7 separate regions of the Homo sapiens genome follow, and all the other regions are reported to be linked to region 1. Evidence: microRNA targets listed by miRTarBase, many of them from high-throughput screens and not tested one by one. Region 1 holds a microRNA gene; each other region holds the end of a gene's coding sequence. Distances are between the middles of the regions.
The links. The annotated mature microRNA hsa-miR-6875-3p reads AUUCUUCCUGCCCUGGCUCCAU and lies in region 1 at 2,963-2,984, shown strand. An mRNA with a match to its seed (bases 2 to 7 or 8) in the 3' UTR can be bound and repressed. Matches are read on the target gene's strand: a 7mer-m8 pairs with bases 2 to 8, a 7mer-A1 pairs with bases 2 to 7 and ends in A, and an 8mer does both.

Region 2: the mRNA of ARSL is a reported target of hsa-miR-6875-3p. The part of its 3' UTR that is shown has no 7-base or 8-base seed match.
Region 3: miRTarBase lists ANKRD49 as a target of hsa-miR-6875-3p. The part of its 3' UTR that is shown has no 7-base or 8-base seed match.
Region 4: the mRNA of CCBE1 is a reported target of hsa-miR-6875-3p. Seed matches in the 3' UTR shown: 7mer-A1 at 701-707 and 7mer-m8 at 1,365-1,371.
Region 5: miRTarBase lists KDM7A as a target of hsa-miR-6875-3p. Seed matches in the 3' UTR shown: 7mer-m8 at 3,439-3,445, 7mer-A1 at 2,069-2,075 and 7mer-A1 at 1,975-1,981.
Region 6: the mRNA of PHLDA3 is a reported target of hsa-miR-6875-3p. The part of its 3' UTR that is shown has no 7-base or 8-base seed match.
Region 7: the mRNA of ZNF200 is a reported target of hsa-miR-6875-3p. Seed matches in the 3' UTR shown: 8mer at 3,466-3,473.

Annotation. Positions count from the first base shown.
Region 1 is chr7:100,865,118-100,869,183 of GRCh38, forward strand. It overlaps MIR6875 (microRNA 6875), which reads left to right and starts at 2,919; the gene lies at 2,919-2,990. It overlaps SLC12A9 (solute carrier family 12 member 9), which reads left to right. Exons shown (of 14, transcript NM_020246.4): 14 at 602-1,893. The coding sequence ends at 1,488. TRIP6 (thyroid hormone receptor interactor 6) reads left to right here and starts at 2,270. Exons shown (of 9, transcript NM_003302.3): 1 at 2,270-2,489; 2 at 2,744-2,871; 3 at 2,991-3,116; 4 at 3,378-3,749. The coding sequence starts at 2,381. RefSeq lists silencers at 1,918-2,007, 2,368-2,517 and an enhancer at 2,958-3,057.
Region 2 is chrX:2,931,444-2,935,509 of GRCh38, forward strand. It overlaps ARSL (arylsulfatase L), which reads right to left. Exons shown (of 11, transcript NM_000047.3): 11 at 3,078-3,747. The coding sequence ends at 3,389. Among named protein-coding and RNA genes, the nearest start is that of ARSD, 4.1 kb to the left of the region's middle.
Region 3 is chr11:94,497,896-94,501,961 of GRCh38, forward strand. It overlaps ANKRD49 (ankyrin repeat domain 49), which reads left to right. Exons shown (of 3, transcript NM_017704.3): 3 at 176-1,683. The coding sequence ends at 637. It also overlaps a transcript of MRE11 not described here. Among named protein-coding and RNA genes, the nearest start is that of ANKRD49, 5.9 kb to the left of the region's middle.
Region 4 is chr18:59,432,474-59,436,539 of GRCh38, reverse strand. It overlaps CCBE1 (collagen and calcium binding EGF domains 1), which reads left to right. Exons shown (of 11, transcript NM_133459.4): 11 at 399-4,066. The coding sequence ends at 632. Among named protein-coding and RNA genes, the nearest start is that of LMAN1, 75 kb to the right of the region's middle.
Region 5 is chr7:140,087,450-140,091,515 of GRCh38, forward strand. KDM7A (lysine demethylase 7A) reads right to left here. Exons shown (of 20, transcript NM_030647.2): 20 at 1-3,739. The coding sequence ends at 3,645. Among named protein-coding and RNA genes, the nearest start is that of PARP12, 27 kb to the left of the region's middle.
Region 6 is chr1:201,465,018-201,469,083 of GRCh38, forward strand. It overlaps PHLDA3 (pleckstrin homology like domain family A member 3), which reads right to left. Exons shown (of 2, transcript NM_012396.5): 1 at 3,324-4,066; 2 at 1-1,161. The coding sequence starts at 3,769. The coding sequence ends at 3,386. Among named protein-coding and RNA genes, the nearest start is that of PHLDA3, 2.1 kb to the right of the region's middle. RefSeq lists enhancers at 3,351-3,410, 3,481-3,620, 3,842-4,066 and a silencer at 3,691-4,000.
Region 7 is chr16:3,220,246-3,224,311 of GRCh38, forward strand. ZNF200 (zinc finger protein 200) reads right to left here. Exons shown (of 5, transcript NM_198088.3): 5 at 2,080-4,066. The coding sequence ends at 3,647. Among named protein-coding and RNA genes, the nearest start is that of ZNF200, 13 kb to the right of the region's middle.

The DNA of each region.
Region 1 (4,066 bases):
CGGCTAATTTTTGTATTTTTAGTAGAGATAGCATTTCACCGTATTGGCCAGGCTGGTCTCAAACTCCTGATCTCAGGTGATCAACGTGCCTCAGCTTCCCAAGATGCTGCGATTACAGGTGTGAGCCACGGTGCCCTGCCTGGTCCATTTTTTCATCTTCCCATTGCAGAGTCTGGGACGCTATTACCCTGGGGATTCAGGTCATGAGCTTGGCTGATCAGGGTGTCTGGTTTGCACAACAGAGTCAAACTCGCATCCCCTGCCGTGAAACAGATGCCCCGCTAGAAGCCGGGAGTGGACAGCATCCTCCTCTCCATAGAATTGGAGTGCTCATTAGTGGCAAGAATCCTAAGGCGAACTTTGCCTGTTTAAGTGGAGGAGATTAGTCACTGAGATAATAAAATAAATGCATGTGAAAGTGTTTAGGAAAAATGAAAAGTCTTTATGCAAATATGCAGAATGTTGCCGTAAGAGCCCGTACACAGTGGGAATGTCATACCTATGGCTGACGCACCTTGCTGTCAGTGTGTGGGAGCGTGGTGTAAACTTAGCCTGTGAGCCTGACTCCTGTCTGTTCCTGCCTTCCCCGCTCTGCCCCCAGGTGGCATGAAGCCCAACACGTTGGTCCTAGGTTTCTACGATGACGCTCCACCGCAGGACCATTTCCTGACGGACCCGGCTTTCTCTGAGCCTGCAGACAGCACCAGGGAGGGCAGTTCCCCAGCTCTGAGCACCCTGTTCCCTCCTCCCCGGGCTCCTGGGAGCCCCCGGGCCCTCAATCCCCAGGACTATGTGGCCACGGTGGCCGACGCCCTCAAGATGAACAAGAATGTGGTGCTGGCCCGGGCCAGCGGGGCCTTGCCCCCTGAGCGGCTGAGCCGGGGGTCTGGGGGCACCTCTCAGCTGCACCATGTGGACGTGTGGCCCCTCAACCTGCTGCGGCCCCGGGGTGGGCCCGGCTATGTGGATGTCTGCGGCCTCTTCCTGCTGCAGATGGCAACCATCTTGGGCATGGTGCCCGCTTGGCATAGCGCCCGGCTCCGGATCTTCCTGTGCCTGGGGCCTCGGGAGGCGCCTGGGGCGGCCGAGGGGCGGCTGCGGGCACTGCTGAGCCAACTGAGGATCCGGGCTGAGGTGCAGGAGGTGGTGTGGGGCGAGGGGGCCGGGGCTGGGGAACCCGAGGCGGAGGAGGAAGGGGACTTTGTGAACAGTGGGCGGGGAGACGCAGAGGCAGAGGCCCTGGCACGCAGCGCCAACGCCCTGGTTCGGGCCCAGCAGGGGCGCGGCACAGGAGGAGGGCCGGGTGGGCCGGAGGGTGGGGATGCTGAGGGCCCCATCACAGCCCTCACCTTCCTGTACTTGCCTCGGCCGCCAGCCGATCCCGCCCGATACCCCCGCTACCTGGCGCTACTGGAGACTCTAACCCGAGACCTGGGCCCCACGCTGCTGGTTCATGGGGTCACTCCAGTCACCTGCACTGATCTGTGATGCCCCTGCCTCCAGGGCTAGGTAGAGAGGGCCCAGGCAGGCGGCCTATCCTGATCCTTGGAGGAGGAGGAAGAGGAGGCCACTGTGGCCCGTGGCCCTGCCCTTGGGACGTGGAGCCCAGGGGAGGTTTGAAGGGGATCCTGGGCTTGGGCATCACGCCCACCTCCTTTGGCAGAGGGACCCCAGCACACTAACTCTGGGTGGCTGTCCCCACCGTGCAGGGGAGGGAGTCCGCAGCCTCCCTTCACTGGTGCCTTGATGCTAGGGGCCAGGCCTCCTCTGTGACTCTGGGCTACCTCAGTTTCCCCATTTTGGCCAGACTCACCGGCCCACTGGGGTGGTGATGTTTTCGTTCTGTTTTATTTTTCTAACTCTGCTGACCATGAATAAAAGACCAAAACACTACAGGCTGGCTGAGCAGTGCTGGTGGGTAGCTGAGAGGGAGGGGGTGGGAATGGAGAGCTCTGCAGAGGGGTGGAGATCGGAGCCTTCAGCCTCCCGCCGCGAGGCTGCCACGTGCAGGGCTGGGGTGCGGGGCCCGGACGCATCCGTGGACTTGGAGGCTGGCTCGGGCCCGCACCTCCCATCCCCAGCTGCCCGCAACCCCCAGTGACTCGGGATCCCCCGGAGAGCCCTCCCCTCTCGGCAGGAGGGGGCTGACTCAGGGAGAAATGGCAGTTTAGGGCCTAGGGGGCCACGTGACCCTCCCCCAGGAATGTGGTGACGTCATCGGAGGCGTGGTCGTCCCCAAAATTAGGGAGGAAGAGGAAAAAAAAAAGCCAGAAAAAGTTTTCTTTTCTGGAGTCCCAAACGAGGTGCGGGACGGAAGAGGGGGTGAAGGCCAGAGGCTCGGGGCTTCAAGACCGCTGTCTGGAGTCCCCCTTTCCAGGCCATGTCGGGGCCCACCTGGCTGCCCCCGAAGCAGCCGGAGCCCGCCAGAGCCCCTCAGGGGAGGGCGATCCCCCGCGGCACCCCGGGGCCACCACCGGCCCACGGAGCAGGTAAGGCAGCCCTTGTGAGACAGAAGAGCCACCCAGCTGTGGCGCTCACCTCTGTCCTACCGCTCCAGCCTCCCGCCCTGGCTGCTTCCTCCTGCCCCTTCCCCAAGCCGAGGCGGGGGGAACAGCCGCCTGCGCTCTCTTGGGACCCTAGATTTGGGGGAGGAGGTAACGAGAGGCGGAGAGGGTGGCTCCTCAAATATACACCCCTCCTGTCCTCCGCCACCCCACCTTTGATTTCTCTTCCCTCAACCCAGCACTCCAGCCCCACCCCAGGGTCAATTTTTGCCCCCTTCCATCTGAGCAGTGTTACCAGGCCCCAGGGGGACCGGAGGATCGGGGGCCGGCGTGGGTGGGGTCCCATGGAGTACTCCAGCACACGCAGGTGAGACCCGGGATCGTGGGGTGGGACATGTGGGATCCCCCAGAACCGAGTCTGAGGGACCCAGGACAGGAGAAGGCCTATGGTGATTTGCATTCTTCCTGCCCTGGCTCCATCCTCAGGGGCTCCCTGCAGACAGGGGGGGCCTTCGCCCTGGAAGCCTGGACGCCGAGATAGACTTGCTGAGCAGCACGCTGGCCGAGCTGAATGGGGGTCGGGGTCATGCGTCACGGCGACCAGACCGACAGGTGACTCTGCCCCTCCTCCCCGTCAGCACCCTGCCCCCTTCTCTGGACTCTCAGACCCAGCCTGATCGATCCCCCATGTGTGTAATGTGCACCCCAGCATGGAGGAAGCGTGGCTGCAAGTACCAACATGTCAGCCACTTGAGGACGGGACCTTGTCAAATGCAAAAAGCCTGTGCTTCCCCACAGCCAGGGTCATTTCCACAAATGTGGGTCTTGGAGTGGGGTCCTTGCTTACGACTTCTGGCCTGCGTTTCTCCTCAGGCATATGAGCCCCCGCCACCTCCTGCCTACCGCACGGGCTCCCTGAAGCCAAATCCAGCCTCGCCGCTCCCAGCGTCTCCCTATGGGGGCCCCACTCCAGCCTCTTACACTACCGCCAGCACCCCGGCTGGCCCAGCCTTCCCCGTGCAAGTGAAGGTGGCACAGCCAGTGAGGGGCTGCGGCCCACCCAGGCGGGGAGCCTCTCAGGCCTCTGGGCCCCTCCCGGGCCCCCACTTTCCTCTCCCAGGCCGAGGTGAAGTCTGGGGGCCTGGCTATAGGAGCCAGAGAGAGCCAGGGCCAGGGGCCAAAGAGGAAGCTGCTGGGGTCTCTGGCCCTGCAGGAAGAGGAAGAGGAGGCGAGCACGGGCCCCAGGTGAGCCCTGGGGAACTGGGATTTCAGGCCCTACAGACAATGGGACACCGACTGGGTGGGGTGGCTGGTGGTGTTTTAGGGGGCTTTTTTGTTTTTTGAGACAGAGTTTTGCTCTTGTTTGCCCAGGCTGGGGTGCAGTGGTGCCATCTTGGCTCACTGCAACCTCTGCCTCCCGGGTTCAAGTGATTCTCCTGCCTCAGCCTCCTGAATAACTGGATTACAGGCACACGCTGCCACGCTTGGTTAATTTTTGTATTTTTAGTACAGACGGGGTTTCACTAAAACCCCAGTTTGTTGGCCAGGCTGGTCTCGAACTC
Region 2 (4,066 bases), not on the chromosome of region 1:
CTTGGTGGCTCACACCTGTAATCCCAGCACTTTGGGAGACTGAGGGGGAAGGATTGCTTGAAACCAGGAGTTTGAGAACAGCCTGCGAAACACAGAGAGACCCTGTCTCTACAAAAAAATTTTTTTAAGTTAGCCGGGCATGGTGGTGTGCCTGTAGTCCCAGCTATTTGGGAGGCTGAGGTGGGAGAGTCATCTGAGTGCAGGAATTTGAGGTTGCAGTGAGCTGATTGCACCGTTGCACTCCAGACTGGGTGACAGAGCAAGACCCTGTCTCTAAAAAAATTTAAAAAAGAACTTTTTTATCTTTGAGGGCTTCCCAACTGGGATTCCTTGCTGAGCCTCTGTCATGCAGATGGAGAAGGCCAGGCCGAGGCCTGGAAGGAGGGGGGCAGGAGACAGCCCAGAAGCAGTTCTGCAAGGAGGTTTAGCAGGGGTGGCGCGGAGATTTGATCCTTGGAAGAAATCCTATGCTGCTGGGAGTTGAGATTCCTGAGAACTAGAGAGAAAAGAACTTTGGGTGCCCTTAGGTAAATTATGTAAACACACTGAGCTGTCTTGGGTGCCCAGGATTTGGAAATGGGGCCTGGGGGCAGTAGGAGCTGGTGCTCCAGAAGTCATATTTGCGGGAGGTTGTGGGGATGGAAAGGGTGGGTAAGCCCTGACCCTGAGGGTCTCACATGACTTTCAGCACATGGAGCCTCCATGGGGACTTTGGCTTCAAAGCCATCAAGCTCAAGAGTGTGGGCAAGTGTGGAGACAGAGGTGACTCTCCCCAGTGGATGCTGAAGAACTTAAAGGTGACTCTGTGGGCCGGGAACATCGGGCACAGCTGACCCAAAGTGCTGGTCTTGTTCCATAAGCCATGGCTATGGGGAAAGCCATAGGGGTTAACTGGTTCTTCCTGCCATCCCTCCCTCCCTTTCTTCCTTTTTCTTTTTGCTTCTTTGCTTTCCTTCCTTCCTGCCATTTTTTCCTTCCTTTCTTTTTAGAGATGAGGTCTCGCCCTGTCGCCCAGTGGCACGATCACAGCTCAGTGTAGCCTTGGACACTTTGGGAGGCCAAAGGCTCAAGTGATCCTCCCGCCTCAGCCTCCCAAGTAGGTGGGACTATAGGCACGTGTCACCACACCTAATTATTTAAATGTTATGCGGAGGCAGGGTCTCGCTATGTCACCCCAGCTGGTCTGAAACTCCTGGCCTCAAGCCATCTTAGTGCCCTAAAGTGCTGGGACTACAGATGTGAGTCACCGCACCTGGCCTACTATTTCTTTCTTGACCCAAGAGAATTGGCTGGAGATGGATTTGACTTTTTGGTCTGTATGCACAGCCTGAATTCTTGGAGGCTGATGTGGATTGGATAATTTGAGGACATGTTCTTGAGGCGGTGACAAGGTGGGGCATTGCTCGTCACATACCTAGGCTTGGAAGAGTGGGAGGAGGGACCTGTTGCTTGAATCTGGAGACAGAAAGAGCTATTGGAAAGACCTCCTTACTCCCAGGGGAGAATGTGCTGGGGACTGAATTGTGTTGCCTTCAAACTCACAGGAATAAGGTTTTTATTCATCCTTTAAAATGAGGTCACAAGAGTGGGCCCTATTCCAATAGGAGTGGGGTCCTTATAAGAAGAGGAGATTAGGGCCGGGTGCAGTGACTCACGCCTGTAATCTCAGCACTTTGGGAGGCCAAGGTGGGCGGATCACTTGAGGTCGGGAGTTCTAGACCAGCCTGGGCAACATGGTGAAAACCCACCTCTACTAAATAATACAAAAATTAGCCGGGCATGGTGGTGCACGCCTGTAGTCCCACCTACTCGGGAGGCTGAGACAGGGGAATCACTTGAACCTGTGGCAGAGGTTGCAGTGAGCTGAGATCACGCCATTGCACTCCAGCCTGGGCAACAGAGCAAGACCCCATCTCAAAAAAAAACAAAAAACAAAAAACAAGAATCAGAGATAGGACACAGACAGGCACAGAGGGATGACCGTGTGAAGACATGGGAAGAAGGCAGCAGCTGTGAACCGAGAAACAGGTTCTCCCCAGACACAGCTTCCGTCACGCCGTGGTCTTGGACATCCAGCCTCTAGAACTGCAAGAAAGAAATATTCTTGATGATACCCAGTTTATGGTATTTTCATTCTAGCAGCCCAGACAATTAAGGCGCAGCCTGATTATGCAATGACCTTGCAGCTCAGAGCTGGGGCGAACACTTCCTGCACAGCGCGGCTTCCACAGCCAGAGTTTGCCCAAATCACCTGGGGCATTGGAGACAAAGGAAAACCACTTGAAAACAGTTCCAACGGGAAGCACGGCTCATCCTTGTGGCCGTAAACGATAAACAAACACTATAAATGGGCACCACAGACAAAGCCACATCAGTGCCAGTTTTTATCTTTGGGGCCTATCTCCTGTTCATGTGCAAACCTGTAGGTCACAGAGACACCTTTGCTGGGACTTGTGCTGTTTTGGGCTACAGGGCAGCCTCTTCCAGACTGAGCTGGGGTCCATTGACAGACTCCTCCCCGACTGCAGGAGATACTTTGCCTCTCCAGTTTGGTGTCTGAGTGATCATTCAACGGTGCATTATTAATGTTTGTTTGTTTATTTATTTATTTTTGATGAGACAGTCTTGCTCTGTCACCCAGGCTGGGGTGCAGTGGTACGACCTCAGCTCACTGCAACCTCTGCCTCCCGGCTTCAAGCAATTCTTCTGCCTCAGCCTCCTGAGTAGCTGGCATTATAGGCGTGTGCCACCACACCTGGCTGCTGCTGCTGCTTTTTTTTTTTTTTTTTTTTTTGATAGAGACAGGGTTTCACCATGTTGGTCGGGCTGGTCTCGAACTCCTGACCTCAAGTGATCTGCCTGCCTCTGTCTCCCAAAGTGCCGGGATTACAGGCGTGAGCCACTGCGCCTGGCCAGTGTTTATTGTTCATTTCTACTTTCTCTTGCCTTTTCCTTTGTTTTTCACAGGGGGAAACTATTCATCCTTATGCAAATAGATATCTTAACATGACACTGAAGTTTGTTTCATTTTTTTGTTTTCTTTCTTTTTTGAGACAGGGTCTTGCTCTGTTGCCCAGGCTGGGGTGCAGTGGTACAATCATAGCTCAGTACAGCCTCCAACTCCGGTGCTCAAATGATCCTCCTGCCTTAGCCTCCTGAGAAGCTAGAACTACAGGCGTGTGCCACCATGCAGGCTAATTTTTTTTTTATTTTTGTTTTGTAGAGCTAGAGTTTCATCATGTTGCCCAGGTTGGTTTTGATCACGGGAGTGATCCTCCTGTGGTGGCCTCCTAAAGTGCTGGGATGACAACCACCATGGCCAGCTGGTTTGTTTCAATTTGAGTGACAAAATTTAGGAATCGGGGCTCCAGCTTTTCACTGCAGACATTTATTGTGGGTCATCTTCCCTAAGGCACCAGCAGAGGGGGAACGGGCCACAGCAGGGCTGCAGCCACGGTCTCCAGATGTTGCCCAGCCTGTCCAGCTGCAGAGGAACTGGGCTGAGTGTCCGCTGGTGTTCCCACACCGCCTGCTGGACTCGTTCCATCACCTGATAGAACACGGGCTCTGAGGCTGGTGTGAGGATGTGGGTCTCAGAAGGGTCTCTTGAGAGGTCAAAGAGCAAAGGTGGATCGTGGTGGACTACTTTTTCCCCAAAGCACGGGCAGACCTTTCTTCCATAGCAGGCACCGGCTCCCTCTGGCTGGAACACAGGCGTCACAAAGTGGACTTTCCACATTGTTCCTCCTGGTGGAAAGATAATCATTACAGAGTTGGCATAGAGAAATAGGGTGCCTTGCTGGAGAATGGCATCTTCATAGGGCTAAAAGGTAGGCCTAACCCAAGCGTCCATCGATGGATGGACAGATAAACAAAACATGGTACATCTTACATGGCATACTCTGCAGCTATGAGAAGGAATGACACAATGACACAGGCTGCAACATCAACGAACTTTCAAAATACTACGCTCAGAGAAAGAAGTTACAAAAGAGCACACATTGCATGATTCCATTCACATTGAATGTCAAGGATAGGGAAACACATAATGACAGGAAGTAGAGTA
Region 3 (4,066 bases), not on the chromosome of region 1:
AATCAGTAGTCCTCTCCTCCCCAAAAAGAGATCTTAAATTATTTTCATTTTAAAGTCATCTACTAACAAGTAAGTTTTTATTCAACTTAATTAAATCTAACACCACAAGACAATTTTGTTTTAGTTATTGTTTTGGTTTGAGTTGAGTTGAAAGATTTCTTTTTTTTCTTCTCAGCTTACCACAGTGCGGAGACTCCTTTCTGAAAAGGCCACTCACGTGAACACTAGGGATGAAGATGAGTATACCCCTCTTCATCGAGCAGCCTACAGTGGACACTTAGATATTGTTCAGGAGCTCATTGCACAGGGGGCCGATGTTCATGCAGTGACTGTGGATGGCTGGACGCCCCTGCACAGTGCTTGTAAGTGGAATAATACCAGAGTGGCTTCTTTCTTACTGCAGCATGATGCAGATATCAATGCCCAAACAAAAGGCCTCTTGACCCCCTTGCATCTTGCTGCTGGGAACAGAGACAGCAAGGATACCCTAGAACTCCTCCTGATGAACCGTTACGTCAAACCAGGGCTGAAAAACAACTTGGAAGAAACTGCATTTGATATTGCCAGGAGGACAAGTATCTATCACTACCTCTTTGAAATTGTGGAAGGCTGTACAAATTCTTCACCTCAGTCTTAACAATTCTAGTAATTTTCCTAAGTTTCTAAATACCAGTGCCTCCTGTGTGTGAGATGTATTCCCATAATCAAAGTTGACGTCAAACATCTTACTACAAAAATTCAGTGACATTCATTATAACATTCTTCCAAGTGAATTGCCTGACTTTGATGTCAAAATGTATTTGAAAGTAATTTGCATATATCTTTAATTATTTCTGTGGAGTTTGTGATTTTTTTATCAGAAATAATTTTAATGTGTGTATACTTAAAAACTTGACACGGGTTGTACAGAAACTGGTATTTTTGGTGCTGATACAAGAGAAATGTATTTTTAAATATCCCACATCCTGGATCTTTGTTGGGTATTTAGTATATTGACATATATTTTTATAAGGTGAGGTAACTCAGAACTTAATTTAAAAGTCTTAAATATTCTGATACAATTCAGCTGTCTTCTCTACCTTACCATAGCCAGTTGCTTTCATTTTAAACCAGAGCAAGTAACATATTAGTGACTTGAATCTTCATAAGTTAAAGTAAAAAACAGCAAAAAACCTAGATCTTTGTCTTTTAGAACACAGACCATTTTCAGGAAAGCAGTTAGCTAAGTGTTTAATTCATGAATATTGTATACTGCATCCCCTACCACAATTTACACAATCCTGTGGATAGTCCTACCTCACCCTGGTCAACCTACATGATCCTTAAGCTAATGGCGAATCACGATGACCTTGTAGACATGCACACAACTATACCTTTGTCCAACAGATCATAATATATCTGCTATCCAACTGGTTTTACCTGCCTAATCCTACTGATTTGGGCACTGCTTGTATAGTCTCTCAAGTTCACAGGAAATGTTGATTTTCTAAGGTCCTCATTTTTACAGAGTATACAGGCAAAGTGACAGGGGAAAAGGAATTAGTCTAAGAGTAAGGGGATGATTATTATATTGAGGCTAAAACCACAAAGTGGCTCAGGCTTTAAAAAAAAAACACTGTGGATAATGACAAAAAGCATAAGTAAAAATATTTGAGAAAAATAAAGTACAAGTTTTGAACAACACAAAAGGCATGAATTCATTTTTTACCTGTGTATGTCTTTCTTGGATCCAGAACATTATTCATCCAGCACGCACTTAGTTATTTAACATCTACTCACTCAGTCTCTCCAGCAGCAATTTTGCATTGTCTATCTAGCCCCCCTGTGATTGTTCCCAAAGTTTTGTCTTCTCAACACCACAACACTCCAGGGGAAGGGAACTAAACCAGTTGCTCTTTACTTCAGTTAAATTTTTAAGATGTCCACCAAGGCTTATCTCTTTCAAGCCATCCTACGTAACCCAGTCACCCTAGACTAAGTAATAATGTTATTTAATCAAAGATTAAATATTTATTTTTGCTTAGAACTTATTAGATCATCTCAGAAAAGTCAGAGATAATATATGAACTGAATCATCGTGACAACAGGATCTTGAGAGTTAGTGCTTTAGTTTATGTTGTGATCTCTTCCTAGGGAGATGCTTTGTGGCAGAGGTTGCTTTCTGTTTAATCTGGCCTAAGTTAGTGGCACCAAATGACAGATACAGCTGACAGGCAGTGATGATAGAATAAGACCTTATTTATCCAAGCAGACTGCTGAATGAGGTTGCTTAGCCTGAAAGTCACAGAGCTGATGGCTCCTTTCTCACTTGAGAATGGATTGTACCCATGATTCCATGTAAACTTTCCATTAAAGTATGGAGCCAAAGAAGTCTTGTTTCCAATAAGGACCTAAGATGTGTCTATTCCCTTGTTTTCAGACCTCAACACTCACTCACTGATGCTAGAGAGCAAACTCTACACATAAGACAAATCCCACCCCTGAGGGCAGAATTTGTATTGTCTGCTTCCTTTATACTTTCCAGAGCATTCACTAGACTGCTCTGTGCACAGAAGGCAGTCACTAATCGTGCTTTGAAAGGATTACTTCTACTTTCCAGTTTAGGCCGGCTAAATAGCTCAGTTTACAAACAGAATTTTCTCTAATCTTGGAAAGTCTATACAAAGACTTATTAAAAAATAAAATCTGAGTTTTTCATAACTAAGGGTTTAATTTTGATTAACATATGCTTGAGGAAGAGGTAATTTTTGTGACTGTTCAAGATTCATAGCGTCATTCTTAGGCCTAAAGTGGAACTAGTTGCCTTTGCTTTTATGAATCTTAAATATGCTTTTCCAGGGAGCCTTCCAACCCACAGCCTACCACAGTGGTGGGATTTAGAGTCTTTATACTACAATCTGAAGACATTTATTTGTATTATTTGACATCTATTATGTTATCTAACACTATGCTGGAAAATCATGATCAGAAGAAGCCCAGAGACTATACTGAGATTTATGTCCCATACCAAAATGAAATCTCTGGATCAACTCTTGATTCCTGATCAACACATACACCATCTTCACCCTACCTGCAATGGCTCTAGGAATTTATGCAACTGCCTACAAAATAATATCACCAAATCATTATGTCTTTGCTATAATTAGTTTATCATAAGATGCTCCAGTCCATCTGTAGGATTACTAGATGACCACTCAATTTGTTCAATATGAAATGCTTTCTCTAAAGGATATTTAAGGTCTATCTTTATTAAGTTCAGAAGAGAGTAAACCAAGAAGGATTAAGTGTAGCTGATTGATGTTTTAAATTCCTGGAAATTTCCCTTGGAAACTCCAAAATTTTACTTCTCAGAACCTAAGTGGAAATGATCTAAATCAGTGCCAACACATAGAAACATGGGCCTCATGTAATTTTATGTTTTTAGCATGACTATTTTAGATACCTCATATAAGAGGACTCATGCAATAAGGACAGAATTGCATTTTATGGCACACAAACATAGATAAGCAAAAATCCTAGCAGTTGAAAATCGTAAGAGCCATATTAAAAACAGGTGAAATTAATTTTATATATATATGACAATACATCCAAAATATGAGATATATATTTAAAATTTTTTGAGATGTTTTACTTTTTTTTGCAGTAAGTCTTCAAAATACAGGGTGTATTTTACAGCACATCTGGATTTAGTCACATTTCAAGTTCTCAGCTATGTTTGTCTAATGGCTACTCCATTGAAAGCACAGATCTACATGCCTGAAATCATTCCCTGGAGGCACAGAAGGATGGTTACACAGAGCATTAAACTCTGAGTGAGACAAACTGAGTTCAAATCCTCAGTGCCACCTGTGGGTCACTTTGGGCAAAAAAAAAAACCCCTCGGTTTTCTCATAGGTAAATCAGGGATAATATCTATCTTGTTGTAGGCTAGTTTGTTATTTAAATGTAAAAATCATATGGTGTTATTTATTTTGTCAATTTCTTTAATACTTTAAAAATAAATATCAATATGAAATACATCGAAATCATATTGTTTTTTTAAAAAGCTATGTGTTTATCAATGTCC
Region 4 (4,066 bases), not on the chromosome of region 1:
AATTAAGATGACACAGCTAGTAAGCGGCAGAGATGAGATTCAAATCCAACAGAACCCCAGTCTCTTAACCACTGCTCTGCTGCCTTCATAAGCATCTTCCAGACTGCTTTGGAAAGTAACCTAGGAGAGTTATTCTTATATCCTTTCCTCTACTGGATTTGATAAAGCGTTAGGAGGGAGGAAAGGTGAATACATCACCAAAGCTCAGCTGAGAAGTGACAGAATTAGAAAACAATATGGAGGACCCCCAGGCTCCTGTAGCAGTCCTCACATTGGCTCCATTTGGGGCACAGAGTTATTGAGAAAGTAGTTGCCAGCAAGCAGCAGGTCAAGTCATGGAGCCCCGGAGGCCATTGCTGTCTGTCGTATTCTAGCTTTGATTCCTCCCATGTACACAGGGACCCCCTGGTTCTTTCGACTTCCTGCTACTTATGCTGGCTGACATCCGCAATGACATCACTGAGCTGCAGGAAAAGGTGTTCGGGCACCGGACTCACTCTTCAGCAGAGGAGTTCCCTTTACCTCAGGAATTTCCCAGCTACCCAGAAGCCATGGACCTGGGCTCTGGAGATGACCATCCAAGAAGAACTGAGACAAGAGACTTGAGAGCCCCCAGAGACTTCTACCCATAGCACATCCCAACACCGTCACGCCAAAGGAAGAGAAAGATCAACTCACCTGCAGTTAAACCATCTAAAGAGAAGAAAGACCACTGGAGACCTAGAAAACATACATTTTTCTCTTCTCTTCTCCTGACGTCTCTCCACTCCTCTTCTTCCAAATACGATGCTATTTTCAGAGTCCCCTCCTAGGCCTGCAGACATGAGGGAGTGAATGATTGATTTACCTGCTTCTCACTAAGAGTCCATTGGGGTGGTTTGCATTGTAACTTTTCTTTTACATCCTATTTTTCCAGGAACTTTGGATTTAAGTACTCTCACAGTGTCTTAAATCATAAATTCTTGAAGTTAAATTTGGCAGAGTATCAAAAGGGGGAAAATGACAAAGTGAGCTCTAAGAAAATGTGAGGCTACTTCTAAGATGTGTGTTCACAATAGACCATAACTCCTCTAGTATCAAAATTGGGGCTCTTCAGTTAAAAAGGGGTGGGGAGGACAAACGTGTCGATGTGCTTTGGTGGAGAATTTTTTCCTTGTGCTTCTAGTAGACTTTAAATATTGTATCCCTTTGTCAAACCTTGTTTCCCAAATTCAATTAAAGAGAGGAGAGAATTGAATGGCGTTTAGAGAAGATAGAAAAGAATCACAGTCATATATTTACTGTTATATAGATTGCCACATTCTAAAATTCAAATACGGTGCTTAAGGTTTCATGCCATGCTTATCTGTAAGTATCCTATTTAGGGAAGAAGATTAAACTCTCTTTTCAAAAAAACAAAGTGAAATGCCTGGATTCACATTAAAACAATGGGCTCTCGTTTGCTATAATATTTTAAAGCTGTTTAATCAACAGTGGAGTCTGCTCTATAAATATAGATTATTTGTTCAATAAACTGGCTGAGCTTAGAGAGAGGTGCAGAATTCCTGGTTCTGAGCAGGTGCCCAGAAGGTACCATTAGGTGCCATGATCCAGGCTGAACCAATATACAGTGGGGCTGAAGTCTGCAAGGAGGTTGCTGGCTTGGGCTGACCTCACTAATGCCATCAGCAGCGGTAGGTAAATTTTTTCTCCTTGGGTATTACAAGTTTTTGTCTGGAGCCAACCAAGCTTGCCACCAACATATTGAGAGTAATACACTATTGAAAGTTATCTTGGATGGGGAGAAAAAAAAATAGTGGTTTTCCTTGTTTGCAAAAACTTCCTTCCTATTCTCATTTTTTCTTAATTTTCTTTAATTTAGTCCAAGTTCCAGTTCTTTTAGGCCTTCTCTTTGATTTATTTTCCCCTGCATGTGAGAAGCAGTTCAGAAAAAGGTCTATATCTCCACCTCCTAGTGAGTTAGAGTGTTTTCTCAGAGCACCTCTGGGTGGCAAAGGGAAGCATGTTCCTGCCAAGGTTTGCTGTGGATTCAGAAGCACCAGGAGCAAGAGACCAGAAGGATGATCTGCTCCTTTGTAACGTTGTTGAGGGCCCTCTTGTTTCCAATGAGCAGCTTATAGGTTACTCACAGTCCACTTTCTCACTGGACACACAAAGTGGCTCTTTATCTACCTTTGCGGGAGATTTTCACTCTCCTGCAAATGATCGTTCTCACACTCATATTAGCTCATGTTGGAATTTCCCATCCTGCCATGTCCTTTCCCATTTCTTTTTGGCTTTTTTGCCTCCACCTTTTAGCCCACATCATTTAACTCCACTACTGTGAAAGCTTGCTTAAAGAAAATCCCTCTTGGCCGGGTGTGGTAGCCCACGCCTCTAATCCCAGCACTTTGGGAGGCTGAGGCGGGGAGATCACAAGGTCAGGAGATCGAGACCAGCCTGACCAACATGGTGAAACCCTGTCTCTACTAAAAATACAAAAATTAGCTGGGCGTGTTGGCACACACCTGTAATCCCAGCTACTCAGGAGGCTGAGGCAGGAGAATTACTTTAACCTGCGGGGGGAGCCTAGATTGCGCTACTGCACTCCAGCCTAGGCAACAGAGGGAGACTCTGTCTCATTAAAAAAAAAAAAAAAAAAAAAAAAAGGCCGGGCTTGGTGGCTCATGCCTGTAATCCCAGCACTTTGGGAGGCCGAGGCGGGCGGATCACGAGGTCAGGAGATCGAGACCACAGTGAAACCCTGTCTCTACTAAAAACACAAAAAATTAGTCGGGCGTGGTGGTGGGCGCCTGTGGTCCCAGCTGCTCGGGAGGCTGAGGCAGGAGAATGGCGTGAACCTGGGAGGCGGAGCTTGCGCTGAGCCGAGATCGTGCCACTGCACTCCAGCCTGGGCGACAGAGCGAGACTCTGTCTCAAAAAAAAAAAAATATCCCTTTTGTTGTGTTTGAATGCCACCTTTCAGTCTTCTTCCTTAAGAATGTTAGGAAGGGGCTTTGCAAACCTCTAGTGGCAACAGTCTTCCTTCCCTTCTTCCTACCACGTTGGAAATGCAGGACTCATGTCAGTCAGCATGTGACCGAGTCTTTCATGAACACTTTGCTCCTCTATGTCTCATTTATGCAAAATTCCTGGTGACTCTCCACTAACATTTTTAAAGTGAAAGCAAACTTTCACTTTAAAAAAAGTGAGCGAGAGGATCCCTTGAGCCCAGGAGTTCAAGGCCAGTCTGGGCAACATAGCAAGACCCCATCCCTAAAAAAAAAAAAATAAGTTTTATTAAATGTGGCACTTTCCCCTAGAAGGGCAGTAACCCCAGGAACCAGTCTGCCTCTTTTCGAATAAAGGAGACTTTTTAAAAAGAAAAAATTTCTTTTTAGGGTGGGGTGCTCTTTATCTAGCATCTTTCCTTCCTCCTTCTCTCTGCAAAATTCAACATTCATGACAGAGGGCCACACCAACCACGGGTTTATAGAGAGAGGAACTGAACAGCTGTTGATTCCCATCTGGAATATATTTAATGTTTGCCTGCTTGTGGAGCATGGTATTTAAAGGGTGTGGATGGATGAATGTTTAAAAAAAAACACACAAAACTATGCACAAGCTGTATGAGAGATGGCTAGGTCCATCTATGATTTTTTTTAAAAGAAGAATTTTAATACCTTTTCTTTGACAGTGAACTGTATTTAGAAATATGATCTTTATTGTGAAATGCTCATAAAATGCAACCAAACTGCATGTTTGGCCATAGGCTAGAATAATATATTAAAAGAATTAATGGAAAGTAGTATTGTCTGGGTTTCATGAAACTATTCCAGATAATATTCTCCAGCAAAACTTATGGTAACCTGTATTTTATAATGTCAATCTGCTGGACCAAGTTAATTTAGAAAATAATTTTTAATCCTCAGATTTTCAAAACTTGGACTACTGCAAGACTGATATGTACTTTTTATGCCCAAATCATATTTTTCAAAGATAGGACATCATAAGGCATCATTATTTCTAATGTATCTTTTAACTAGATAGAAAAAGCTTTACTGTCTAAACAGGACTTCTGCTCAAA
Region 5 (4,066 bases), 39 Mb from region 1:
CTGGGCATATATTTGATATAAAATAAACATCATGAATAGTATTAGTTTTCATTTAAAAATATATATAAAGGTGCATTAATTGCCAGTTTTAACTTAATGATAAGTTCTCTGTATGTATGAAGTGTTAAGAGATTTTCTTAATTGATTATCATAATAAACACTTTAATCCAAATTTACAAATGAGAAAACTAAGAGAAAGAGTTAAGTGACTTATTCAAGGTTACACAGCTGATACCTAAATGGCAGAACTTCGACAAAAGCCCAGGTCTTCTGCTTCCTTGCATGCTACACCAAGTCCCTGTATGACCATATTAATTACCAAGTTGAAGCATTTCTTTAATTGTGAAATTACTTTCACTTCTACAGTGGCATATCTCAGTTGAAACTAAAAAAGTCAGCATGTTTTTTAATGAACAGGTCCTCTTTTGCTCATGTTTGCTTAGAAGTGAAAATAATACTGCTAATTTCCTGGAGAAGATACCTTCAAGGGCAGAGACCACAACTGCAAATTGATGTTCCCCAACAGTACTAGGTAGTGCTGGGCACACAGTAGATGTTTGATAAATACCTGTTGATCCCATATAAATAAATACAGTAGACTATAATTGAAAAGGCAATAATTAGGATTATTTAAAAATAGAAAAGTATTCAAGCTAAGTAATTAGTGATAAAGATGGGCTTGTTTCCTCTGAGTTTATGATTTCAGTCAGAATCTTCAATTCTGTATGCTTAAAAATGAACTGATACTTATGAAGTTCAATGTATTTCTAGGATACTGAACTACTACAAACTGCCAACTTTATATTGTTTACATCACTCATCAATATTGAAAAGCATAATATTATGTGACATTGTAAATTATAATCCAATGGATCCCAGCTGAACAGTCACTTATTTGAAACAATACAGGAAAATTATCATCTATTCCTATTACTAAAGTTGCATATGTTAATCATAATTCTCAATTTTACATATTTGTATTTGGTTACAACTAGCTAAATGCTATCAGTGCTGTCTTCCTAAGTTGCTGTGTCTGTATGGTATAAATGAGGTTCTCTATTACTGTTAAGCCCAGGTACTCGCAGCAGCTACCACAAAGTTCAGCCATTTCCATGAGATAAAGGGATGCATTATGGCCAGTAATGTTATAAGACGTTTGACCAGGAGTCACTGGATCAGTGGCCGAATTTTCACCAATTCAGAAAAAGACACATGGATTCTATTCAAGTGGTTCTATTACCTCGCTGAAAGTTTTCTAACTTAGCCACTTATTAAGGGGCTAAAACTACTAAAAATGAATCCACAGTACCTTCACTTTAGAATTCCACACACGGGCTACTCCAAATTAGTACTTCTCAGCCTAAGGACACAGTGGATACTGGCCACAATTTTAATTCATAAAAATAAATTAAATTTCATTTTAATTCATAAAAATAAAGTTTAATTTTAATTTTTGTGACTAAAGAAAAAAATAGAAAATACTCAAGAGCTGTGAAAAACGTAAAGGAAAAAAGAAAACCCAGATCATGATATAACACGAAAAGGAAATTATAGCTCTTACACCTCGTATTTCTTAACCCAAAATAAAAACATGACTATTGTAACACCGACTCAGGATCTACAGAAAAGCAAAAATCACAAGAATATACTGTGTGGGAAGGTAGGGGAATCAGTCAAACCCAGATTTTTGACATCCTGAGATAAGATGACTCTACCCATCTTTCCACTGGTTTTGGCATAGTGTAGACAGGGTTTACACGGGTTGTTTATAGACACTAAGGATTTCCATAAAAATTCTTTTTCCTGATACCCAGATAAGATTCAGACTTTGGTCCAGTCACTCTGAACCAGAAAGGCTACTTCATAAACTATTTCATATTTATCCCATGACATTTTGGAATGGGGACACAAGAAGTATTTCTCTTTGAAAATATACATTTGAATGCAACCATGAAAGATGATGGTACAGACTTTTTTCTTCTTAGCAATTCAAGTGATACTTAATAGAGAAGGGTAAGTCCTGCTATCTTGCTGAGTAAAAAAAAGACAAATCCATAATATGGCCATATTTCTTCTCCATAAAAATAAATTTTATCTATTTGCCTATATTTTCTTTGTAGGAATTTGTAAAATGCTCTATTGTCAGACTTGGGAACATTTCTGCCCCACCCCCAGAAATCACTTATTTTTATGCCATGGATGGAAAAAAGGGAAAATAGAAGCTACTATAAGCAAATGAAAACTGGCATTTAGTAAAAATCATACATAAAGGAGATAAATGAATACCTTAAAGTTTAACCAGATACTTAACCTCAATATGTACTGGTCAGGTTAGGATAGATGGAAGAAACTGCCAAAAGCACCCATTTTACTCCAAATCCATATCTTAAGTAATTCTTTAGAAAATTAAGAAATAAAAAAAGTAAATACACACAAAAGATCTATTCCAACATGCTTGCTTCTATACAACTTAATGTAGTATTAATCCTATTATATTACGGCTTATGATGCAGATTTGAATATCCTAAATAACATTTCCCAACAAATCAGGTATGGAGCATAAAAGTATCATAAGGTATAACCTCTGCAGCAGGTGCCAGTCCTGTTGTCCAACAGCAGCAGTACGAAGAAGGCCTGCTGTAGTTACAAATGTACTTGGAAAAACTATAAACATGACAATTTAACCAAACTTATAATACTTTTCCCACAAGTAGGAAAAATATATTAAAGCTGCTCTCTTTGGGACCCAGATATCATCAGCAGAAATGAAAATGCAAAAGCCTATTTTTTTTAATGTTGAGAAGAAAATCACAATGTCAAACGAAATGAGAAATGAGGGATCTTTCATGGAGTTCTTACACATTGGCTACGAAAGTGTTTCCCTGCAAAGAGAAGAGTCTTACTGGGTCATCACAAAATGATGGGGAGTGCAGAGGGAAGGTGGGATATAAGGTAATCAACCTGGATAACAGTATGCACCTTGGATGTTAGCAAAAGCGAAGCTAATAGCTTATAAAAAACACATGAAATATATAAAATAAAATGATTTTCATATACATCTTAATTTAAAATAATTAATGCATCAAATCCCTGTTTAAGACTTTAACCTGAATATCAAATTTAAGAGTCCAGACTAGTTACTGTTACTGTGGCCCTTCCCCACATGTAACACACACACTATCAAAAATAATTTAAAAACCTTCACATTCTTACATCTAAATTAGTGAGATATTTCTCCAGAAATCTTCCAAATAAATAGCTTTAAAAAAAGAATTTAAAAGCTGTTAACTTTAAAAAAAAATCTGTTAAATAAATTATTGATAATTCTTTACCCTACCACTGAAAATACATCAAGACACTACCAACAACAAAATAAAATTCAAGCCCTGACAAGAGACCCTTTCCAGTTCAAGGTCTCTTTTTAAGGTTCTACCCTCCTTCTTCCTCTCCCCCACCAGGTCCAAAATGGTTATTGCTGAGTGGGTGTGGCACAGTGAAAATGCAGCATCAGGTTCATTCTGTTCTTCGGGCAGTGTTCTTACTATACACACAAACTGCTCCAGGCAGGGGGACAGCGGAAGCTCCAGGCTCCTGCACCCCTAGACTGGTCTCCAAAGGGAAGAATGGCTGCAACAGCAGCTCTGTCACACAAAGAAACGTGCATGGCCATTTCTGTTCAACTTAAGGATCTTCCCAAGACGTTGTTTGGCTGTTGCCATTCCTTTTTTTGGACGTTTACCTATAAAACACCAAAAGGGAGTGTAAGTAATGATGAAAAGTACACTTAAGAGAGCACCTGGAAGACTACGGGGAGAGCTTTCTTTATGGGAAGTAAGCCCTTAGGTGTTCTGCATGGACAGAGTCATACTTCTGAACTTCCGCTGTTTAAAACCCTTCCACCTCATCACACTAGGCCCTCACAAGACTCACAAGGCTTCCCACAGTCTGGTCTGCCTGCTCTTCAGCCTGGGCTCTTCCCTATCCTGCATTACACTATGCTTAGGCAACAAAACTGACTACCATTTCACAAATACCCCATATCCTGCTTCTCCCCTTTGTGCCCTGC
Region 6 (4,066 bases), not on the chromosome of region 1:
GCCAGGCTGGTCTCAAATTCCTGACCTCAGGTGATCCACCCACCTCAGCCTCCCAAAGTCCTTGGATTACAGTTGTGAGCCACCGTGCCAGGCCTTCACCCTGTTGAAATTATTCCTTTTAACCCTCCAGGAGGGAGAACTTACTGTGTAAATGTATAAAGCCTGAGAGTATAAATGACAGGGAGACAAACTCTGCCCAGAAAGCTGAGGCTTCTCCCAGGGTAGCAGGGGCAGGGTAGCCTCCTGTAGAAGAGACATTCATAGGGACTGAACTGACCAGCTTGACATCCCTCGGTCCAGAATCTATGGGCCCTCCTTCCTAGGACCACCAAGGCCCTGTCTACTGGGGTTTTAGTGTCTCTGCCTATCCAGGCTGGAGACTTCAGAATGGGTTGCAAATTGGGAGATTAAGGATAAAGAGAGAGATGCTCCAAGCCCTGGGTCTTTGTGGGCAAAGAATTTCACTCAGCAAACTGTGTGGTTACTGCCCTTTGCAGGGCATCTTCATTTGGGGAAAGACATGAAATGCTAATGGCCAAACCCCCCCTCACCCCCACCACCTTCAGGCCGAACACCGCAGTGGGGGGAAGATGCGTAGAGGTGGGGGAAGAAGTGTGCAAAGAAAGGGCCTGGATGGGTGGGGGTCCCAAAAGGACCTAAGCAGCAGGAGACCCCCAGGAGTGGGCTTTAGGCCCAGCAGCTCCCCCTTCTCAAGGTGAGTCCAGAGGCCATTCTGGAGTGGGCCTGGGTACCAGGCCCTGGGTACTCCTTTTGGTACCAGGCTGGCCTCCTGATTCCTGAGGCGTTGGCTCGGCACCCCATGGGGGACTGCCCTCCTCCAGGCCTGGCACAAAGCCAGGGGGCTAAGAGCAGTCTGCAGGACAGAGGGCAGGACCACAGCAGGGAGGGGGCTCCTATGCCAGCTCCCCCTCATGCCATATGAGGCCAGGCCTGTGGCTCGAAGCCCCTGAGCTGGGCATGTCCTGAGAGTCTGGGACCATCCAGGGGCTGCATCTTCATCCTCAGCCCTGCGTAGCCTTCTGCCCTCCTCCCAGGGCTCGTCCATTCCTTCAGCTCCAGCGCCTCCTCCACACGTCCATGCCTTCCACCTTGCCACATGGAGCACAGCCGTGCCCCCACAAGCCAGAGGGAACAACGAAGCTGGCAAGAAAGAACAGCAGTTAGAGCAGGGGCAACAATGGAGAAAGGAGTATCTATTATGAGCTTGGGCATTTTACACCAGCACTTCCCAGCCTTTTCCATAAACATGGAAAACATTTTTTGCATACGTACTGTGGTAAAGGAATCTGCTTCCTCCCAGGCCCCCAAGACCTGAGGGATCAATGTGGATCAATCCTCAGCACAGGGGGTCTGCCTTATACCCCACTTCTCAGCTAAACCCTAACTACAATGTGGGAGGGCATTAACAGGACCATCAAAGTGGGGTATGGCACTAGATGGGGCCCCAGGCTCACTAGGACTCTCTACTGTTGAAGACATCTGCAGGCGGGTAAGGTCGCCTAGGAGGTGGTAGTGGGGAGAGAAGGATCTAGGTTTCCACTGGAAAAATTAAGGCTAGAAGGAAGGCTAAATCCTTTCTCAGCCCTACTCCTACTTCTCACAAGAAGGGAGTGGCATCTGGGGAAGAGGGCACAGGGCTGAGAGCCAGGGCTTCCAGATTCTATTCCTGGCCCCTCCCCTGGGCCTTCCTGACCACAAATCCGCCCCCCACTCCCTGCCCTACTGCTCATAGAGGATTAAGACATCACAAATAACAACTCATGACCCCATCCTGCTGCACCCACCCACCCTGCCCCAGTGCCCCATGCCCTCCTCCAGCTTCTCCTTCCCTGGCCCAGCCAGGCCTGACTGGCACTCAGGGGCAGGTAGACAGCTAGGCCCCCACCCCTTGGCATCAGTGGCCCAGCCTCTGGCGCAGTTGCCTATCCTTCAGCTCCCTTGCTCTCCTAACAGTGAGCCCTAGGGCTCAAAACCCACTGTCAAGAATGGGGACCAGGTGTGGTGGCTTACACCTGTAATCTTAGCACTTTGGGAGGCCAAGGTGGGCAGATTGCTTGAGCTCAGGAGTTCGAAACCAGCATGGGCAACGTGGGGAAACCCCAAATCTACAAAAAAAAAAATTAGCCAGGCATGGTGGCGTGTGCCTGTAGTCCCAGCTACCTGGAGGCTGAGGTGGGAGGATCGCTTGAGCCCAAGAGGTTGAAGCTGTTGAGGCTGCAGTGAGCCATGACTATGCTACTGCACCAGTCTGGGCGACAGGTAGAGATCCTGTCTCAAAAATATATATATAGGCTGGGTGCAGTGGCTCACACCTGTAATCCCAGCACTTGGGGAGGCCGAGGCAGGCAGATCACCTGAGGTCAGGAGTTCAAGACCAGCCTGGCCAACATGGCGAAACCCCATCTCTACTAAAAATACAAAAATTAGCAGGGTGTGGTGGCAGGCACCTGTAATCCCAGCTGTTCTGGAAGCTGAAGCAGGAGATTTGCTTGAGCCCAGGAGGTAGAGGTTGCAATGAGCCAAGATCACACGACTGTACTCCAGCCTGGGTGACACAGCGAGACTCTGTCTCAAACAACAACAACAACAACAACAAACCATACACACACACACACACACACACACACACACACACACACACACATATGTAGAGGAGGAGCTGGATCCCTCAGGCCCAGTCCAGCCAAGGCGGCCCACTGAGGCCCCACCTTCCACTGAGGCCCCACCTTGGGAGCCGGACTCCTTGGCTCTATTTGCAACCCTTGATGGTGCCTTCGCCATCTGGGAGATACTGTCTTTCTACATCAATTCAATGCTCAAACTTTATGACAAGCATTCAACCTAGAGGGAAAGAGGGTCGGCCTCCACGATCCGCGTCCCCACCCTCGGTTGTCCTCAGCTGCCAGAAAGCCGAAGTCCAGGAGCCCTGCTCTGCGTGGAAAGCAGAGGCCCACAGCCTGGGGCAATGTGCAGGCCAACCTCCCTCTACTTCCTTCCACCTGAGTCAGGGCTGAACCAACTTGAAAGAAGGCTCATCTCACCCAGGTATCCCCCTCCCAGGGCTTCCATCTTCCTCTCACACACCTGGATCACATTCTGGACCGGCCAACCTGGTGCCTCAGGGGAAAGTCCGGATCTGCTGGGTTGGCCACTGGCCCAAGCCTCCCATGCCCTCAGTTGGCCCCAGGAACCTCCCCCCTAAGATGTCCGGCTCTGAAGTAGAATGCTAGTCCTCATTCTCTCTGTAGGGGAAAGAGAAGGGAGGGAAGGAGAGAAGAGGGCCCAGTCCCCCGGGGGCTTACCTGCCTTGACCTCAGCACTGAGGTGGTGGGTAGCATGAAGGAAAGATGGTGCGCCCGGTGGTTTAGGACACGAGGGTCCCGGTCCCGAGGCTCTGCCGGGCCCGCACTGTCTGGATGGCCTGCTGGTTCTTGAACTTGACCAGGCCTAGGGTGATCTGGGCGTTCCAGCCGGGATCTTCCAGGGGGCAGCGGAAGTCGATCTCGCCGCCCCCTTCGGTCACCAGCGTGAAGTAGATGTGGCGCCCGGTGCTCTCCACGCACTCCACGGCCTTGATGCGGGCGAAGCTGAGCTCCTTGGGCCGGCCGCCCGTGCCCTTGGCCTCGAAGAGCTGCAGCCCGCGTTCGGTGAGGACGCAGCGCTTCCGCTTCCACAGCTGCAGCAGCCCGCCGCTGCGCTTCTCCAGCACGCCCTCCTTGAGCACGGTAGCCGTCGCCGCCGCCGTCATGGGCGCCCCGAGGTTCGCGGAAAGCTCCAGGCTGCGGCGGGCGCGGCGCCCCTCTCGGCCCCGCAGCGCAGGATTCTGGCGCCCCGGGCTGGCAGGCCGTGCGCGCTGCCCACCTGCGCCCTGACTGCTCCGCGCACCCACACCGCGGCCCTCAGCACCCGGCTGCCGGTGAGGTGGTGTCGGTGCCCCCAGCGCGCTCCGCGCCCACCGCCCCGCTTCAGCCGGCACCCGCTCCTCCGCTCTACCCCAGCTGGCCCAGCCCGACCCGCCTCTGCCAGATGCCTCCGCGCCTCCCTA
Region 7 (4,066 bases), not on the chromosome of region 1:
TAGAAAAATAAAAATAAAAAAATTAGCTGGGTGAGGTGGCATGTCCCTGTAGTCCCAGATACTTGGGAGAGTTAGGCGGAAGGATCTCTTGAGTCTACGAGTTCAGGGCTGTAGTGAGCTATGATCACAGCTCTGTACTCCAGTCTGCGCAACAGAGTGAGACCCTGTTTCTTAAAAAAAAAAAAAAAAAAAAAAAAAAAAAAGATGTGGTCTCAGTAAGTTGCTCAGGCTGGTCTCTAACTCCTGGATTCAAGGAATCCTCCCACCTCAGCTTCCAAAGTAGCTGGGACTACACGCACATGCCACCATGCCGTCTTGATAATGTTTTTTAAATTTTAAAAATAATTGTTTTTTGAAATGGTATCTCACTCTATAGCCCAGGCTAGAGTGCAGTGGCATAATCTCGGCTCACTGCAACTCCACTTCCCGGGTTCAAGCAATCCTCCTTCCTCAGCCTCCTGAGTAGCTGGGACTACAGATGCCTGCCACCGCAACTGGCTACTTTTTGTATTATTAGTAGAGATGGGGTTTCACCATGTTGGCCAGGCTGGCCTTGAACTCCTGACCTCAGGTGATCCACCTGCCTTGGCCTCCCAAAGTGCTGGGATTATAGGCGTTGAGCCACTGCACTCAACCAAATCTTTTTTTTTTTTTTTTTCGTAGACAGGGTCTCACTATGTTGCCCAGGCTGGTCTTGAACTCCTGGCCTCAAGCCATCCTCCTGATTCGGCTTCCCAAAGTGCTGGGATTACAGGTGTGAGCCACTGCGCCTGGCTTATTTTCTGTAGTTACTACTGGAATTGGATCTTTGGTCTCTTACATTTTCCAACTCTCGCTCTACCGCTATATTGGGAAACTGTTCACTGTTGTTTACTTTTTCAACTTAACTGGTGATCAGGCTCCTTAGGTAACAGAACTTACTCATCCAACAACTTCCCAGGGGCTCTCGTGTTTGGGGGCGGCCCCTGGTCCTGGTCGGGGCGCTCCTCTCATTCCCACCCAGCCTCACTATTGCGGAAGGAAACCCTGCGGCCCATGTCCTGCCCTCTGGGACACTGGGTGCTGATTGACGGCAACCCTGACCGTGGGCACCTCCCCAGTCCAGGAGATGGTGTGGGTTGTGGTGGCTTCACCCACCTACACTTAAAAAAACAAAAAGCTACTCAGGAAGCTGAGGCAGGAGGATTGTTTGAGCCTAGGAGGTGGAGGTTGCAGTGAGCCAAGATCGTCCCACTCCAGCCTTAGCAACAGAGCCAGTCTCAACTAAAGAAAAAAGTGTCTCAGGTACCGTGCCATGGCTTCATGAGAACTGATGTAACCCCCGACTCTGGGCAGGGCTGCCAAAGAGTGAGAGAGTGGAGACTCTCTCTCACCACTCACTTCCTGGCAGCTACTTTTCTGGATGCATGGGCAGGTCCCCTACACATGAGATGGTGTGGGTTGTGGTGGCTTCACCCACCTACACTTAAACGAAAAGCTACTCAAGAGGTTGAGGCAGGAAGATCGCTTGAGCCTAGCAGGCGGGAGGTTGCAGCGAGCCAAGATCACCCCACTCCAGCCTTATCAACAGAGCCAGTCTCAAAGAAAAAATTAACTGTCTCGGGTACTGTGCCATGGCTGCATGAGGACTGATAAAATACCCGACTCTGGGCAGGGGTACCAAAGAGTGAGTGGAGACTCTCTCTCACCACTCACTTCCTGGCAGCTACTTTTCTGGGTGCACAGGCAGGTCCACTGCACATGGTAACAGCCTGCCGACTCTGGAAACACAGTTCAGGATCCCAGTCCTAGTGCACTGGTCAGACTTTCAAATAAGCGAATAACGTTGTGGGCAGCCTGTTTTGTTCGCTTTGCTGGCTTTACAGGGTACTTCCTGTTGGCCTGAAATACAATGTTGGTAAAGACAGTTTTTCTGTGGCCTTTCTCTGTTGTGGAGGATTTGTTGTTTTTAAATTACGATTCAGGACTGAACTGTATCATAGAATGTCCTTCTTTCAGAATGCTTTGTGCCAAAACAAGAAACCTCAGAATTACATGTTAATAACAACAAACAAAACAAAAAAGACCAATAGGCAGAAGGCAAGAAACAAAAACTATTCTTTGTAGATGGTGTCATTTTACCAAAAGTTAACAGAACTAAACCAACAAACTATTGAAAATTAACAACAGTGAGATGACTATACAAATATATAATTAAAAATAACTTTCCCATGTAAAAGCAATAATCAACTATAAAAATATAATGGAAAAAACTACAATAACAAAATTGTGTAAAACAAGTGAAGAAAATTAGAAAAATTTTCACAGGAATATAATACTCTAATAAATAGAAAGGCATGTTTCTGGATGGGAAACATACACTATAATTTTTCCCAAATAGCTTATAGGATTTCTTTATTCCAATCAAAACACCAATGTATAACTTTTGGAAACCTAAAGCAAGCAAAACTGAAGAATCCCTAAATCGCACCACACGATCAGTCCGTAAAGGCACCGCTGGCCTTGCTTCTAGGCAGAGGACAGGAAGGTATGGATATCAAGAGGCTGAAGACAATTAATACCCACTACAATGAAGACACCTGGAAACCTGTCTCTTGAGAGGCAATGTGAGCTAACCACTGGAGACGTAATTTCTAATCATACAACACTTTGCCTTGTGAGGTAGTGACCACCCCATTGCCAAAGGTCTGATGACAGCATAGAGGGGACCTAAGCATATGGTAAGGTTATTGATGAGACATGGATCCAAGCCAACTTTTTCCTGCCTCCAGGTTGACCCTTCCTCTCTGGGTCTTGGGGTTTCCTTCGTAGCACATGAGATCTGGGCTCAACAGAGGGACAAGATTCTGAAGAGCTTTTCTAGTGGTGGGGCTGGATGGCCCTGCCTGAGTAATCCAAACTTCTTTTAGCAAGGGAGAAGCATGAGACGGCTGCTGGAGAGATCAACAGCAGAACAAAATACAATAAGAACAGTAGACACCTAAATTATGTTGTGAAAAGGAATCTGTAAAAGTCAGTTTTATCACAAATTGTAAATATTATTGAAATTGATTGCAAATTTAGATCACATACAAATGAGAGTCTGACATTCAACTGTTTTCCTATATTCCAAAGTAAACAATTCCTTTCAACACTCAAGACTTAAACAGGTATTCTTAGAGGGTTATATGAATTGCTATCAGAAGCTGTTGGCTAACAAGCCAGTAATTTGGTTCTTTCACCAGAACACAGTTCCAGATAAGCATCTTTGCACTATTTCTCAAGTATGAATCCCCATGTGGGGGGAAAACGGATATACTTTCAATAGACACAAGTCACTCTTTGCCTTCCAAGTAAGCAGACTCCAGATTCATCTTCAAAGTGTTGGGAAAGGGGATCTGTGACCTGTACATTATCATATAACTTCAAAAAGGAAAGCTCCTTAGTCCAAAAAGCCTAGATGCTGAGGTATAGCCCTTGAAATGTTTTCTTCCCTGTGAATTTTCTAGCAATTTGAGGTTTTAGCTAAGATGGGCATTTATCCAATTTTGGCAATAATGAGATTTTTACACATTTATACCTTTTTAGGCAGCTTGGGAATTCAGAACTACTTATGAAAGCTCTCAGGTTGAGGCAGCACCATCAGACCCAGAAAGGGTTCCCAGTATTACTTCTGCTTTCGGGTCTTACAGGCTGAGTGGGTTTTCTCATGCCGGGTACAGTTTGACAGCCGACCAAATCTTCTCCCACATTTTTTGCAACCATATGGTCTCTCAGCCTCATGACTCTGCAGATGAAGCACAAACTCCTCATTCTTTGGGAAGGTTTTCCCACATTCTGGACACTTAAATATCTTCTCCCTTATATGGATTCCTTCATGACGACTCCGATGAGAATTCTGACGGAAGTTTTTTCCACACTGAGAACAGGAATAAGGTTTCTCTCCTGTATGAATTCGCTCATGTTTATTGAGGTTTGTTTTATGATTGAAGCTTTTCCCACAGTGATTACAGTCATAGGGTTTTTCTCCAGTGTGGGTCCTCTGGTGGGAAATGAGGTAAGAACTTTCATTAAACTGTTTCCCACA